Linked DNA regions of Homo sapiens: region 1 is linked to region 2. A link means that fine-mapping ties the variant in region 2 to the expression of a gene that starts in the linked region. Tissue or cell type: whole blood. Region 2 holds a variant in brackets; the other region holds the start of a gene. All regions are shown on one strand. Distances are between the middles of the regions.

Evidence for each region. PIP is the estimated chance that this variant, and not a neighbour inherited with it, causes the effect.
Region 1: it holds the start of CLCC1, and the variant in region 2 is fine-mapped to the expression of CLCC1 in whole blood (INTERVAL, PIP above 0.99).

Annotation. Positions count from the first base shown.
Region 1 is chr1:108,958,948-108,967,102 of GRCh38, forward strand. CLCC1 (chloride channel CLIC like 1) reads right to left here and starts at 4,537. Exons shown (of 13, transcript NM_001377458.1): 1 at 4,414-4,537; 2 at 3,362-3,522. RefSeq lists enhancers at 2,239-2,739, 2,740-3,240, 3,613-3,732 and silencers at 3,660-3,954, 4,093-4,332.
Region 2 is chr1:108,926,264-108,934,466 of GRCh38, forward strand. GPSM2 (G protein signaling modulator 2) reads left to right here. Exons shown (of 15, transcript NM_013296.5): 15 at 3,438-8,203. The coding sequence ends at 3,677. It overlaps CLCC1 (chloride channel CLIC like 1), which reads right to left. Exons shown (of 13, transcript NM_001377458.1): 13 at 3,242-6,238. Among named protein-coding and RNA genes, the nearest start is that of CLCC1, 33 kb to the right of the region's middle. The variant G/A (reference allele first, on the strand shown) is at 4,921.

The DNA of each region.
Region 1 (8,155 bases), 33 kb after region 2:
CGGATCACCCAAGATCGGGAGTTTGAGATCAGCCTGACCAACATGGAGAAATCCCATCTCTACAAAAAAATACAAAATTAGCCGAGCGTGGTGGCACATGCCTGTAATCCCAGCTACTCAGGAGGCTGAGGCAGGAGAATCACTTGAACCCGGGAGGCGGAGGTTGAGGTGAGCCGAGATCACGCCATTGCACTCCAGCTTGGGCAACAACAGTGAAACACCGTCTCAAAATAAATAAATAAATAAATATATGAAAATTAGCCAGGTATGGTGGCACACACTTGTAATGCCAGCTACTTGAATGGCTGAGACAGGAAAATCGCTTGAGCCTGGGAGACAGAGGTTGCAGAGAGCTGAGAGCACACCACCGTACTCCAGCCTGGGTGACAAAGTGAGAATCCAACTCAAAAGAAAAAAAAAAATTAAAGAAAAAAAAGCTCATATGATGAGGTTGCTAAGATCTATGTTAAGAACAAAACTTGTATCCATGAAATTGTACAGGAGGAGAAAGAAATTCATGCTAGTTTTGCTGTCGCACCTCAAGTGAAAAAATTCCAGCCACAGTACATAACTGTTATTATTGTGTATTGTTATAATTTTTCTATTTTATTAGTTATTGCTGTTAATCTCTTACTGTGCCTAACTGATAAATTAAACTTTAGCAGAGGAATAGATGTATAGGAAATAACATAGAATATATACAAGGTTCAGTACTATCTGAAGTTTCAGGCATTTACTAGGATCTTAGAATGTATACTCCAAGGGTAAAGGGGGGACTCTATACTCCCAAAGCACTTCCCCAACTCCTACTCCTGGCCAAGATGGAGTAACAGGGACCAGATTTACCCTCCTGCCTGAACAACCAAAGCTCTGCACAAAATAAATAGAACAATAGTTTCTGGCCGGTTGTGGCGACTCACGCCTGTAATCCCAGCACTTTGGGAAGCCAAGGCAGGAGGAACACTTGAGCCCAGGAGTTCGACACCAGCCTGGGCAACTTAGGGAGATTCCATCTCTACAAAACTTGAAACAAAATTTAGCTGGGTGTGGTGGCATACGTCTATATTTCCAGCTACTTGGAGAGGCTGAGGTGGGAGGATCACTTGAGCCGGGGAGGTTGAAGCTGCACTGAGCCGAGATCACGCCACTGCTCTCCAGCATGGGTGACAGAGCAAGACCCTGACTCAATTAAAAAACAAACAAACAAACAAAAAACACTAAAATCACTGTTATGCTCTGGAGATACTTAGAAATACTGAATAACTGTATACTTTATTGGAAAAAATTAAGAGTTCAACTAAGGAAGAAAGCCATGGAAGAAGCAAATACCAGAGAGGAGAGTGAAGGCTAATCAGGGCAATAGAAGACAAGCCAAAATATGCAATGGGCAAAAACTAAGGAGGGACTTAATTTCAAGAAAGTGGTATCAAGCGTATTCAATACTTCAGAGAAGTGGAGAGGAACAAAGTCTGGAAAAAAGCCATTGGATTGGTTAATTAGTTGGCCATTTATGACCTTTCAGAGAATGACAGTGAGAAGCCTAATTCTCTAAGTGGTTAAGAAGTAGGTGACAAAGGGAGTGTGTAAACTGGAGAGAGGCTCCAAGATGGGAGTGCATGAAATTAAGGTTACGGGAAGGGTTCTTCATAGGCAATGAGGTTATATACTCCATAAATAGAAATGAATGAAGATGGATGAAGACAAAATTTCTAAAGTAAAAAGAGAAACTGACAGATTTCATATTATAATATGATATGAAGTGGACAGAGAAATTAAGAGTAATTTGCATTTCTAACACTGTGAGGAGGTTAGGATGGGGGAAACGGAGATTTGGAGGGGAAAAAAGGTACTACAGGAGGCATTATACAAAGGGAAGTGAATAAAAAGCCTGTCAAGCAGTTGAGATTTTTTTTTCTTTTTTATAGAGACAGGGTCTTGCTATGTTGCCCAGGCTAGTCCCGAACTCCTGAGCTCAAAGGATCCCCCTGCCCGCCGCCTTGTCTTCCCAAAGTGCTGGGATTACAGGTGAGCCACTGTGCCAGCCAGGCAGTTGAGTTTTGACTGTGACATCCACAAAGTCGTACTATTGGCAACTATGTTACTTTCTACAGTAATAACCAGCAGTTCCATAGATTTCTCCAGGGATAGAGATTAGCAATGCAGAAATGATGGAAGACAGGAGGGTAAGACAGAATAGAAGAATCAGCTAGAAATTCAAGCCCTCCTGCCAGATCCCCATGGTCACTGATTGAAGGCTGGAACTCCTTGAGAAATCCTAAAACGAATCTCACACTTCCTCCAAACAAAGCTACATCTAAACCTGCTGAAGAGTTTGTTAAAAAAAAAAAAAAACGATTCTGATTCAGTAAATCTGAGGTAGGTCTGAGATCTCCACTTCTAACAAGCTCCTGGTGATGCCGCAGACCACACTCTTGAGTAGCAAAGTGTTAATCGAAAGTAACCATCCTAGCTAGTTTCGTTTAATGGTGGCACCTATGTCATTCTAGTACTTGTCAGGGGACACTACTCTTTCTCTCTCCCGCAGTCCCTACTATTTTTACCATTTCTCTCCTGTCTCAGGCTTCGGTACTAATAATTTTTAAATTATAATATGTATAATAGTAGCTAAAGGCCGGGCACGGTGGCTCACGCTTGTAATCCCAGCACCTTGGGAGGCCAAGGCGGGCGCATCACCTGAGGTTGGGAGCTCCAGCCCAGCCTGACCACCATGGAGAAACCCTGTCTCTACTAAAAATACAAAAGTAGCAGGGCGTGGTGGCGCATGCCTGTAATCCCAGCTACTCGGGAGGCTGGGGCAGGAGAATTGCTTGAACCCAGAGAGTGCAGGTTGCGGTGAGCCGAGATCGCGCCATTGCACTCCAGCCTGGGCAACAAGAGCAAAACTCCGTCTAAAAAAAAAAAAGTAGCTAATATTTTGTTACTATGTGCTAAGCACTGTTACATTAATTTAATCCTCACAAAACTACTGGAAGTAGTACTCTTATCTTCACTCATCTTCATTTTACAGATCACACAAAGTAACTTGCCTAAGACCACCAAGCTAGTAAGTGGTAGAACCCAGACTGGCTCTACCTAAACTGCCTCTCCAGGGCAAAAGTACTAATGGCTCTCAGGGGCTTCTCTGAGAGGATAGGGTCTTAGAGTGGAGAGGACCTGTTGGAACGACATCTCCACAGAGCGGGAAATAGGGAGAGTAGTTTATAGTAGCTACTAGACTGGAGAACTACCAGGAAACACAGATCGTCGTGCAGACGGCCAGGCAGTGAGTAGAAATGGGCACAAAAGAAAAAGTCTTTGGTTTCAACGAAAGCACATGAGTAATGGGAAAGGCAAGACTAACCTGGATTAGTAGAGTCAAATCCTGTTTTAGACTAGAAGTACCAGGGTATAAGTCGGGAGGCTGCAACTTATTTCGTATGCTTATGCAGTTTCTTGGAACCATGGCTCTCAAACTTGCGAATTTGCATTTTTAACAATTTCCCAGATGACGATAAAGCTAGTCTGGGAAGAACACTTCATAATCACTATTATAAAGAAAACCTGAATTGTTTTTCACCACCCAGTAATAAACCTACAGCTTATGGTGTGTCTAACTTTTTACACTCAAATCAGATTTGGAGCCAGGCGCAATGGCTCACGCTTGTAATCCCAGCACTTTGGGAGGCCAAGATGGGAAGATCCTTTGAGCCCAGGAGTCAGAGACAAGCCTGGACAACACAGGGAGACCCCTTCTCTACAAATAAAATTTACAAATTAGCCGGGCCTGGTGGCGCGCACCTGTGGTCCCATCTACTCAGGTGGCTGAGGCAGGAGAATCGCTGGAACCCGGAAGGCGGAGGTTGCCGTGAGCGGAGATAGCACCACCGCACTCCAGCCTGGGTGACACAGCAAGACTCCGTCTCAAAAAAAAAAAAAAAATCCATTTTGGAGGTTGTTTTGTGTCCGTTTTTGTTGTTGTTGTTAACTGTGTTAATTCACAGATTTGAAGTTTTAGAAAATTAACTACAACTAAATCCGAGCTATTCTGCTGACAGCATTTATTCAAATTATGCTTAAAGTTTTCAGAGATAACCAAAGCCAACAGAATTCAACGTGCGCTCAGGTCTCGCTTTGCCCTCGCTGTGCCTTCTCCGTAGGCCGCTCTCTGGGCCAAGCACCTCCCCGGAACGCGCGCAACCGCGGCGGACAGGCAGCCGCCGGCGCGGGAGCTGAGGTAGGAGCCCGGGGCACCCACAGGCCGCAGCGGACGCACGCAGCTAGCACGGTCCCCGCCCCGGGTCGCGCCTGCGGCCTCCCCAGCGTCTGCGCCGCGAGTCCGCTGGACCCGCCAGGGCGTAACGGCGGGTAACCCGCCCCACCCGCCGCACAACACACCCAACTGCACGGACTCACGTCCGGGATCCCCTGCCTGCCTCTCGAGGAAGACACCTGCCCAGGCCGGCCGCAGAAGAGGTCGCACAGCTTGCCGCCGCCCAGGGTTTCAGCGTGCTTCCTGGGCCTCGTCATCGAATTGTTCGGCTGACGGCTGCGTGTCCCTCCCCCGTTGCGGGCCGCTGATTGGCCTCGTTGATTGGGCGGGGCTAGTAGCGGGACCGGCCTCTGCGCGCGGGTTATTTTCGCCGCGGATTTTCTTTTACTTTTCATCTGCGGAACTCTTTCTGCGAAGGAAATCTCGCCTGGAACTCAAATATATACAACGGATAGGAAACCTATTTTCTTACTATTAATATATTTGATAAGTTTGAATGTGTAACATTCGCCATGAAACGCAAGCATGATTTTTTTTTTTTTGAGGCAGAGTCTCACAGTGTTGCCCAGGCTGGAGTGCAGTGGCGCGATCTCGGCTCGGCTCACTGCAACCTCTGCCTCCCGGGTTCAAGCAATTCTCCTCTCTCAGCCTCCCGAGCAGCTGGGACTACAAGCGCGCACCACCACATCCAGCTAATGTGTATTTTTAGCAGAGACAGGGTTTCACCATGTTGGCTAGGCTGGTCTCGAACTCCTGACCTCAGGTGATCCGCCCGCCTCGGCCTCCCAAAATGCTGGGATTACAGGTGTAAGCCACCGCGCCTAGCCACAAGCATAATTTTTTAAAGGGAGGATCACGAATGACAACTGTAGTTCTACTCAGGGCAGGACAAGGGAAAGGTCTGCACACTGTAGGGCAGTTGGAAGTAGTTTTGTTTTTGTCTTTAACTGCTGGCCTTGCAATCTCGGGAAACTGTGAAGATGGTAAAATTTACTATCTTAACCATTTTTAAAGGTACAATTCAGTGGTATTAGATACATTCACATTGTTATGCAACCATTACCACCATCCATCTCCAGCACTCATCTTGCAAAACTGAAACTCTGTACCCAGTAAGTGGTAACGCCTCATTCTTCCCCTCCCTCCTTCCCAGCGACTACCATTCTTTCTGTCTTTATGAATTTGACTACTCTAGGTATTTCATATAAGGACTCATACAGCATTTGTCTTTTTGTAACTGATTTCACTTACCATAATGTCCTCAAGGTTCATCCATGTGGTAACGTGTCAGAATTTCTTTTAAGGCTGAATAGTATTCCATTTTATGTATATACCAGTTCATTCAGTCATCTGTTAATGGATAACAGGTTGTTTCCACTTTTGGCTACTGTGAAATAATACTGTAAACATGGATATACAAATATCTGTTTTTTAACCCTTTTGGGTATACACACAGATGTTCAAATATCTGTTGCTTTCAACTCCTGAATATATATACACAAGTGGAATTGCTGGATTATGTAGTAATTCTATTTTTAATTTTTTGAGGATCTGCCGTACTTTTTTTTTTTTTGAGATGGAGTTTCACTCTTGTTGCCCAGGCTGGAGTGCAGTGGTACGATCTCGGCTCACCACAACCTCTGCCTCCCGGGTTCAAGCGATTCTCCTGCCTCAGCCTCTTGAGTAGCTGTGACTACAGGCGTTTGCCACCATGCCTGGCTAATTTTTGTATTTTTAGTAGAGATGGGGTTTCACTATGTTGACCAGGCTGGTCTCGAACTCCTGACCTCGTTATCCACCCACCTCGACCTGCCAAAGTGCTGGGATTACACGCATGAGCCACTGCGCCCGGCGGAACTGCCATTCTCTTTTCCATAGTGGCTGCAACATTTTACATTCCCTCCAAGAGTGCACAAGTTCCAATTTCCCCACATCTCCACTGACATCTTTTTATTTTTGTATAGTAGCCATCTTAATAGGTGTGAGGTATCTCACTGTGGTCTTGATTTGCCTTTCGCTAATGACCAGTGATGTTGAGCATCTTTTCTTGTGCTTATTGGTCATGCCATTTGTATATGTTTGTTGGAGAAATGTCTATTCAAGTCCTTTACCCATTTGTTTTGTTTGTTTTATTTTGTTTTGTTAAGAGACAGGGTCTCGCTTTGTCACCCAGGCTGAAGTGCAGTGTCATGATCATGGCCCACTGCAGCCTTGAACTCCTGGCTTTGCCCATTTTTTAATGGGTTTTTGTTGTGTTTTGGTTCCTTATATATTCTGGATATTAACCACCTTATCAGATAGGATTTGCAAATATCTTCTCCCACTTTTTCTTTTCTTTTTTTTTTTAGAGACAGGGTCTCCCTGTATTGCCCAGGCTGGTGTCAAACTCCTGGGTTCAAGTGATCCTCCTGCCACAGCCTTCCAAAGTGTTGGGATTACAGGCATGAGCCACCATGCCCGGCCCCATCTTCTCCCTCTTAGTGGGTTGCCTTTTCACTCTGTTGTGTCCTTTGGCTTCTTACTATAAAACGAAAATAAAATTCTAAGCCCCCCAACCAACTGAATAGGCCCATCCTCTCAGCCAAGGGCATTCTAAAGTAAACCTGAGGCCAGTTGCAGTGGCTCATGCCTGTAATCTCAGCCCTTTGGGATGCCAAGGCAGGTGAATCACTTAAGGGCAGGAGTTCAAGACCAGCCTGGCCAACATGGTGAAACCCTGTCTCTAGTAAAATCACAAAAATTAGGCAGGCAAAGCGGTGGGCCCGTAATGCCAGCTACTTGGGAGGCTGAGGCAGGAGAATCGCTTGAACCTGGAAGGTGGGTGTTGCAGTGAGCTGAGATCATGCCATTGCACTCCAGCCTGGGTGACAAAGCGAGACTCTGTCTCAGGAAAAAAAAAAAAAACAGAGACCTTAACACTGACACACTTTGTAGCAGTAAGATACCAATGTGACAGCAGGTCCATCCCCCCACCCCCACCTCTGAGTTGTCCCATCTTTCTGAACTGAACCAATGTATATTTAACATGTATTGATTGATGTCTTACGCTCCCTAAAATGTATATAAAACCATGCTGTAGCCCAAACACCTTGGGCACATCTTCTCAGGATCTCCTGAGGCTATGTCATGGGCCATGGTCACTTAAATTTGGCTCAGAATAAATCTCTTCAAATATTTTACAGAGTTTGACTCCGTCGACATTACAATTTTGGAAAAGTAAACATTTTAAAAATAAAATTTGGGGGCAGATGTGGTGTCTCATGCCTGTAATGCTAGCATTTTGGGTGACCAAGATGGGAGGACTGTTAAGAGGCCAGGAGTTTGAGACCAGCCTAGGCAACATAGTGAGACACCCATCTCTATAAAAAAAATTAGCCCCACATTGTGGCATGTGCCTGTAGTCCTAGCTACTCGGGAGGCTGAGTGAGGCAGGAGGATCATTTGAGCACAGGAGTTCTAGGCTATAGTGAGCAAGACTTTGTCAATATAACACAATGCAATAGAAAAATTAAACATTTTAAAAATAGAAATAATCTCTCAACTTGAGGCAACACACACACACACACACACACACACACACACACACACACACACATAAAATTGGAACAGACCTCTAAATGTCCTCCCTGGGAATAATTAAGAACCTCTGCACTACCCATCCACCCCAATTCCCCTTCCTTGCACTGCCAAATGAGATGGACCCCAAGAGTATAGATACTTCAGTCCTCTCATTTTCTCTTTTATGTGAACCTCAAAGAACCTAGTCACCCCATGCAGAAGACATGTGGAGACAAACAAAAAAGGACATATGTAACCAGCTATTTACTGAAGCAAATATAACAATTTCTGGTGCTTATTATTTTGAGAGGGAGTCTTGCTCTGTCG
Region 2 (8,203 bases):
TATTTTTCCAGGAGAATGGGATTCAGGGGAGAGAATGGTAGTTGAAGACATGTGCCAGGAAGTGATTTTAATAATGGACTTAAGAATCTAGGCTGTAAGAAGGAAAATAAAGAAATGAACACTTCATAACTCATTCTGTGAGGCCAGTATTGCCAATACCAAAGCCAGACAGACACTACAAGAAAAGTACTGACCAATATCCTTCATGAATCCAGATGCAAAATCAACAAAAGCCTACAATCCAAATTTAGCAGCGCCCCTGCTGTAAAGGATTTTACACCATGACCAAGTGGGACTTATTCCCAGGACGCAAGGACTGATTGTTCAACATGTGAAAATCAATCAGTGTAACACATAATATAAACAGAATAAAGGGAAAAAACACATACAGGAAAAAAATGACAATTCAAAACTCTTTCATGATAAAAACTTAAAAATTAGCAACAGTAGGAAACTACCAGAACATAATAAAAGCCATATATGAAACATGTACCGCTGACATCATACTCAATGGTGACAGACTGAAAGCTCTCCTCCAAGATCAGGAACGAGATCAGAATGCAGGTTTTTGCCACTTCTATTCAATGTAGTACTAGAAATTCTAGCTGGAGCAATTAGGCAAAAAAAGAAAAAAAGGCATTCACATTGGAAAGGACAAAGTATCAATAAAATTGACAGAGGTAATCAACAAGTTCAACAAAGTAGCATGATACAAAATCAACACAAAAATCAGTTGTGTGTTTATACACTAACAATGAACAATTGGAAAAGAAATTTAAAATTCCATTTAAAATAGCATCAAAAAGAATAAAATACTTAGAAATTAATCACTGAGGCAAAGACTTGTATAATGAAAACCACAAAACATTGCTGAAAGAGATGAAAGAAAACAAATGGAACAATATCCCATGTTCATGGATTAGAAGACTTAATAATGTTAACATTTCGATACTATCCAAAGTGACCTACAAATTCAGTGCAATCCCTGTAAAAATCCAAATGACTTTTTCCTCCTACAGAAATAGAAAATATAGCCTAAAATTCATATAGAACCTCAAGGGATCCCCAAATATCCGAAATAGTCTTGAGAATAAAGCTTTAGGGCTCACATTTTTTTATTTCAGGTTATTACAAAGCTACATTAATCAAAGCAGTGCAGTACTGGCATAAAAGACAGACATATAGACCAATGGAATAGAATACAGATCCCAGAAATAAACCCTTGCATGTGTGGTCAAATAATATGCAACAGGGGTGCCAAGACCATTCAGTGGGGGAAAAGACAGTTTTATCAACAAATGGTTCTGGGTAAACTAGAGAGCCACATACAAAAAGAATGAAGTTGGACCCTTACCTAATACCATATGCAAAACTCAAAGTGGGCCAAAGACCTAAGCATCAGAACTAAAACTATAAAACTCAAGAGGAGCATGTGGTGGCTTATACCTGTAATCCCAGCACTTTGGGAGGCCAAGGTGGGAGGATTGCTTGAGCCCAGGAGTTCAAGACTAGACTGGGCAGCATAGTGAGACCCCATCTCTATAAAAAAATTTTTTTAAATTAATGGCACACACCTGTAGTCCCAGCTACACAGGAGGCTGAGGTGGGAGGATCACTTGAGCCTAGGAGTTCAAGGCTGCAGTGAGCCATGATCACGTCACTGTGCTCCAGCTTAGGCCACAGAGTGAGACCCTGTCTCTAAAGGGAAAAAAAAGGAAAGCCTCATGGCATTGGGTTTGGCAGTGATTTCTTGGTTATAAAACCAAAAGAGTGAGCAGGGAACAACAACAACAACGTAGACAAATTGGACTTCATAATTAAAAACTTGTGCATCAAAGGACATTATCAACAGTAAAAAGGCAACCCAACATAAAATACTTGGAAATCACATATCTGATAAAGGATTAATACCCAGAATATATAGAAAACTCCTAAAACTCAACAAAAACCAACCTGATTCAAAAATGGGCAAAGAACTGGAAGAGGCATTTCTATAGAGATAACAAGAGGCTAGAATATGACCATGGGAGCCAAATGGCTAAGGCCGAAGTGAAGGATGAGGACATTCAATCAGAGGAAGTCTAGGAACTAAGTGAGGAAGTCTAGGAACTAAGTGCCCAAGTGTTGGGTTAATTGGAGGACATTGAAATTATCAATTTATGACAGGAGAAATGAATGAGCCAGGTATGTGTGGAGGTGGCACTCACTTAGGAGGGCAGTAAATAACTGCACCCTCTGAGGGTTGTGGGCTTAAATGTTCAGGGATCTATGTCTTATCACAGTCCCTAACAATGTAGTGCATATTCAAATATCAGCTATCACACTTCTATTCTTACTCTTGAGCTACAATGCCAGAAACTATGGTGTATACTTGTAAGTGCATGTATTTTTTGACAAGTAGCATGTCTAATATAAGAATCATAATACTCAAACTTGAAAGAAAAATTCAGAGACCAGGCTCATGCCTGTAATCCCAGCATTTTGGGAGGCCAAGGCGGGTGGATCACTTGAGGTCAAGAGTTCGAGACCAGCCTGGCCAACATGGTGAAACCCCCATCTCTACTAAAAATACAAAAATTAGCCAGGTGTGGTGACGCATGCCTATAGTCTCAGCTACTGGGAGGCTGAGGCTGAAGAATCACTTGAACCTGAAAGATGGAGGTTGCAGTGAGCCAGGATCACACCACTGCAGTCCTGCCTGGATGACAGAGCGAGAATCCGTCTCAAAAAAAAAAAAAAAAAAATTCATTCTGGGCTATTTCTTAACAGATTTAACAGCCTAAGACAGAGGCAGGCAAACTTTTTCTGTAAAAGGCCAGATAGAAAATATTTTAGGCTTTGCCGCCCATATGGTATCTATTGCAACTGCCCAACTCTGCCATTTAGTAGGGAAGCAGCCATATAGATAGTATATAAACATATGTATTGATGGGAAAATGAAAATGACTTCATTTACAGAAGCCGGCACTGGGTTACAGTTTGCTGTCCCCTAGCCTAAGACGTGATTTTTTTAAGGTAGTTCCTCATGGGGTTTGTACATATTTCTAAAGATTTGTTAAGTTACACAGTTGATGCCTGTTAGATTATAACCTTGAACTGTCATACTTAGATACAGTTGACCTTGTCTTTTATCCTTGTGACCAATTATAATTAAAACAGTATGACTTAACATAATGCACGTACTAAACCAATGAAGCAGCTATACCTATATAAGCCATTTTAAAGGAAAAATTTTATGCAGTTTCAGGTTTAAAGATTATTTCTTTCAGAAATCAGGCTGGGAACTAAAGAGAACAATATAAAAACAAAGATTAATTTCTGAGAAGCCCCAAATAAAAGTTTACAACTGCGTTTTCTTGTTGTGACTGAGAGATTTAACATAGCTTGGTGCTTTCTTTCCCACAGTATGTCTTTTAATCTCTCTCATAAACTTCTAGGGATCCAGATTAGATGATCAAAGATGTGCTCCACCACCTGCTACCACAAAGGGTCCGACAGTACCAGATGAAGACTTTTTCAGCCTTATTTTACGGTCCCAGGGAAAGAGAATGGATGAACAGAGAGTTCTTTTACAAAGAGATCAAAACAGAGACACTGACTTTGGGCTAAAGGACTTTTTGCAAAATAATGCTTTGTTGGAGTTTAAAAATTCAGGGAAAAAATCGGCAGACCATTAGTTACTATGGATTTATTTTTTTTCCTTTCAAACACGGTAAGGAAACAATCTATTACTTTTTTCCTTAAAAGGAGAATTTATAGCACTGTAATACAGCTTAAAATATTTTTAGAATGATGTAAATAGTTAACCTTCAGTAGTCTATTAAGGCATTAATACTTCTCTGGACATGCGCGTTTGAGGGTGGAGGGGTCCTGTAAGGTGCTTCATCGTCTGTGATTACTGCTTGGGATGTGTTCTTTGGCAGCTTGTGAGATTACTTTACCTAGTGTTTATAAAGTAGGAAGTTAAGTGAATCATAGATTAGAATTTAATACTCTTATGGAAATAATTTTTTAACATCTTAATTGACAATGGCGTTTTTTTATACATAACCATGGATGTAGTGGGAAACAATGTTGTTTGGTAAAAATAATGTACTTGATCAATGTAAAAAAGTATATAAAATAGTCTTACTAAAAATCTAGGTTTTTTTTTCCTCCATGAAAATCTGTTTTTTTAGGCCAAAGTCAGTATAAAAGAAACTCTACTTCTTGGGCTGGGCATGGTGGCTCATTCCTGTAATCCCAGCACATTGGGAGGCTGAGGCAGGAGGATCGCTTGAGGCTAGGAGTTCAAGACCAACCTGGGCAACATAGACCCCCGTGTCTATGAAAAATAAATCAGCAGCCAGGCGCAGTGGCTCACACCTGTAATCCCAGCACTTTGGGAGGCCGAAGCGGGCGGATCACTTGAGGTCGGGAGTTTGAGACCAGCCTGGCCAACATAGTGAAACCCTGTCTCTACTAAAAATACAAAAATTAGCTGGGCATGGTGGCATGCGCCTGTAGTTTCAGCTACTTGGGAGGCTGAGGCAGGAGAATCACTTGAACCCCTGGGAGGCAGAGATTGCAGTGAGCTGAGACCAAGCCACTGGACTCCAGCCTGAGTGACAGAGCAAGACTCTGTCTCAAAAAAAAAAAAAACAGCAAGCATGCTGGCACACACCTGTAGTCCCAACTGCTTAAGAGGCTGAGGCAGGAGGACCACTTGAGCCCAGGAGGTGGAGGCTGCACTGAGCTATGATCGTGCCACTGCACTCCAGCCTGGGTGACAGAGCAAGACCCTGTCTCTAGAAAACAAGTATCTTTTGTGTGTTTTGGGCTGTTTAAAAAAATTATTTAAAATGGTCTCTTCTGTTCCATAATACTGCTGTAAAACAAACTTTTCTAAGTTCTAATATAAAAACAAAAAACAAAACCCAT[G/A]TGGTTAGGTCAAGAACCTAGGACACATAAACAAACAGAAAACAGATGAAAACTCACAAAAATTAAATATGAAAGAAAGATGTCAGCTAGAACCTTAGTTGTCATTAAGCTTTGTCTTCCTTATCCCAGATATTGAAGGCAGTTTACAAGGGGATGATAACAAAGTAACTAACTAACTGTAGCAAAAGACAAGTATGGGACAGACTGGGACCTGGAGTAACACTGGATCACAGACTGCAAAGGCCCACGCTTGGAACAAGTTGCCAACTTGTTTCACTCTGCTTGCTTCAGACTGTGCACAGCTGGGATGGGATCTGGGGATGTGGACCCCTATTCTTTCAAAAAGTCATTCAGGTGATTTGGATGGGCAAATAGAACTATTTCTCTAATGGCCAATGTTTTTTAAGAGTCATAACCTGGAATTAATTACATTAAGTGCTCAGCTAAAAAAAAAAAAAAAGTTCTAAATTACAACCTGGATTACATTATGTTTCATGTATACTATAAGGTATGATGTCCTGGATAGCATTTTAAAAACTCAGGTAAGTTTCATGGGGTTCTTATAAGAAAATTCAGTTAAGACAATATACCAAACCACAACGTAAAAAGTTTGTGTATACAAACTTTTTGTATTATTTGTACACAAAGTACAAATTTGTATTTGTACACAAAGTACAAACTTTGTGTATTATTTTGTGTATACAATAGTTCTTACAGCCTGTAAACATTCAACATTATTCCATTTAAACATTGTTTTTAACAGCTGTCTACCCTGTTCTGATTTTCCTAAAAGCTTCACACTATATAGGCTGGGCACAATGGCTCATGCCTGTAATCCCAGCACTTTGGGAGGCCGACAAGGGCGGGTCACTTGAGGTCAGGAGTTCGAGACCAGCCTGACCAACATGGTGAAACCCCATCTCTACTAAAAAATACAAAAATTAGCCAGGCATGGTGATGCACATCTGTAATCCTAGCTACTCGGGAGACTGAGGCAGGAGAATCTCTTGAACCTGGGAGGTGGAGGTTGCAGTGAGCCGAGATTGTACCACCTCACTCCAGCCTGGGTGACAGAGCAAAACTCTCAAAAAAAAGTAAAATTTCAAAAAAGCTTCACAATATAAACCTTAATTTTAATGACATATTGGCTAGTCAATAAACAAGTCTTATCTCATCTCATCTCTTTTCTGATAACAAACACCCGATGTGTTCAATTTGCTTTCATATTTAAGTCTTTCCTGAATTGCTGTCATCATTCAACAACAGTTGCATGTCGCCTTGCTAGCTGTCAAAGTAGACTTCATCCCCAAATGGATATCTGTAATGAAAGAATACAAAGGTGAAATTTTATTTAAAAATTTTTTAAAAGAATTTGGTTTTGGATTAAAAGGCATGCAAGCAGCATTAATTCCACTCACAGTTACAGTCTATCACCTGGGGCATTCACTACTTTTCAGAGTCAGATCACAGTTCAAAAGACAGCTCTCACCTTGGGGGCATATTCCCCAAGTCAGTGTGAACATGTCTTGTCCCAAGAGGACACTTTATACGCATGGATGTTCACAAATTTATTCTAAACTGCAGGTGTCTGTCAGGATTCATTTGTTAAACATGTCCTCTGTGTTAAAAATCCTAAAATCCTTTTGCATTTCTTAGAAAAAATCACGTTTCTGATGAAATTCTAAAGATGTTTGCAATATTAAACTAGAATATATTAACATGTATAATTTTGAGACAAGGTCTTGCTCTGTCACCCAGGCTGGAGTACAGTGGCTCGATCATAACTCACTGCCACCTCACGATCCTCTTGCCTCAGCCCTCCAAGTAGCTGGGACTACAGGCGTGTACCACCATGCCTGGCTAGTTTTATTTTTAGTACATAGCCTTGAACAACTGAGCTTAAGCGATCATCCTCCCTCAACCTTCCAAAGTGCTAGGACTGTAGGCATGAGCCACTGCACCTGGCCTAAAATTACATTGTTACAGGCACGTAAGTAACACTTCCTGGATCCAAAAATGTGTATTCTGCATTTCAACAACTGAACTTAAGCGATCATCCTCCCTCAACCTTCCAAAGTGCTAGGACTGTAGGCATGAGCCACTGCACCTGGCCTAAAATTACATTGTTACAGGCACGTAAGTAACACTTCCTGGATCCAAAAATGTGTATTCTGCATTTCAACAACTGAACTTAAGCGATCATCCTCCCTCAACCTTCCAAAGTGCTAGGACTGTAGGCATGAGCCACTGCACCTGGCCTAAAATTACATTGTTACAGGCACGTAAGTAACACTTCCTGGATCCAAAAATGTGTATTCTGCATTTCATATTAAAATAAAAAAGCAAGTGCTTGGGATACAAATATCTGCATGAAAATTTAAAGACTTTATTCCTGACTGGTATCACTTTTAGTAAGCAGTTGAACATAACTTGTAGTGTGAATATGGTTAAAACAAAGGACACCTGATGTCTGTGAAGTCTGCTAAGGACAGGTACAAAATTTATGCATTGCTTTTTAAAAAGTTTAAAATGAGGAATGCTTTTGATAATCAGAAAGACTAATGTAAAGTGCTGACTGATGTCCTGTCTGCAGTTAAGGAAGACACCCAACTCTCTTCTTCCTCATCATGGTATTCTCTATGTATAGATCTCTAAAAATGCAAACTTCCTATGGACAAGACAATATGATTTGCTATAATATGAATTAAGATATGGTAATATCTAATAGTCTCCACTGCTAGGATTCTGAGTAACACAAAAAATAGGTTTTATAAAAAGCCCATGCACTTCAATTGGTGGGGGAAAAGAATAAAGTCATTTTCAGTCGACTGACTCTGTAAAACAGATTACCAATATAACAAGCTATGTTATCTAAATTGCCCTGGCAGTCTTCAGTTTTCTCTAAGTAAACAAAGTAAAAGGAACAATAAGGATGCAGGCGTAGTAATAGCTGTGGAAAAGATGAAACTACAGCCACAGTGACCTGTGGGCAGCCTGCGTAGAGATAAGCTGAGGTGTCAGTCAGACTGATCCTGGTAACGATACTCCATGGCTGCATGAAGATGCTGGAGGCATCAAGTGGGTGGCCTTAACTCTAGTGGATTCACTAGGCAATGTAAATTGGTTAGTGGGTTCCCGTAAGTGCCTGTAACAATAAAATTTCTTTTTCAATGTCCCCAATTCAAACTGGCCTCCTTAACTATCCAGAATCAGTGATGCCTGTCATCTGTTCATCTTAAAATAAACACTTCTTACTTTATGGGATGTAAATATCAAAGAGAAG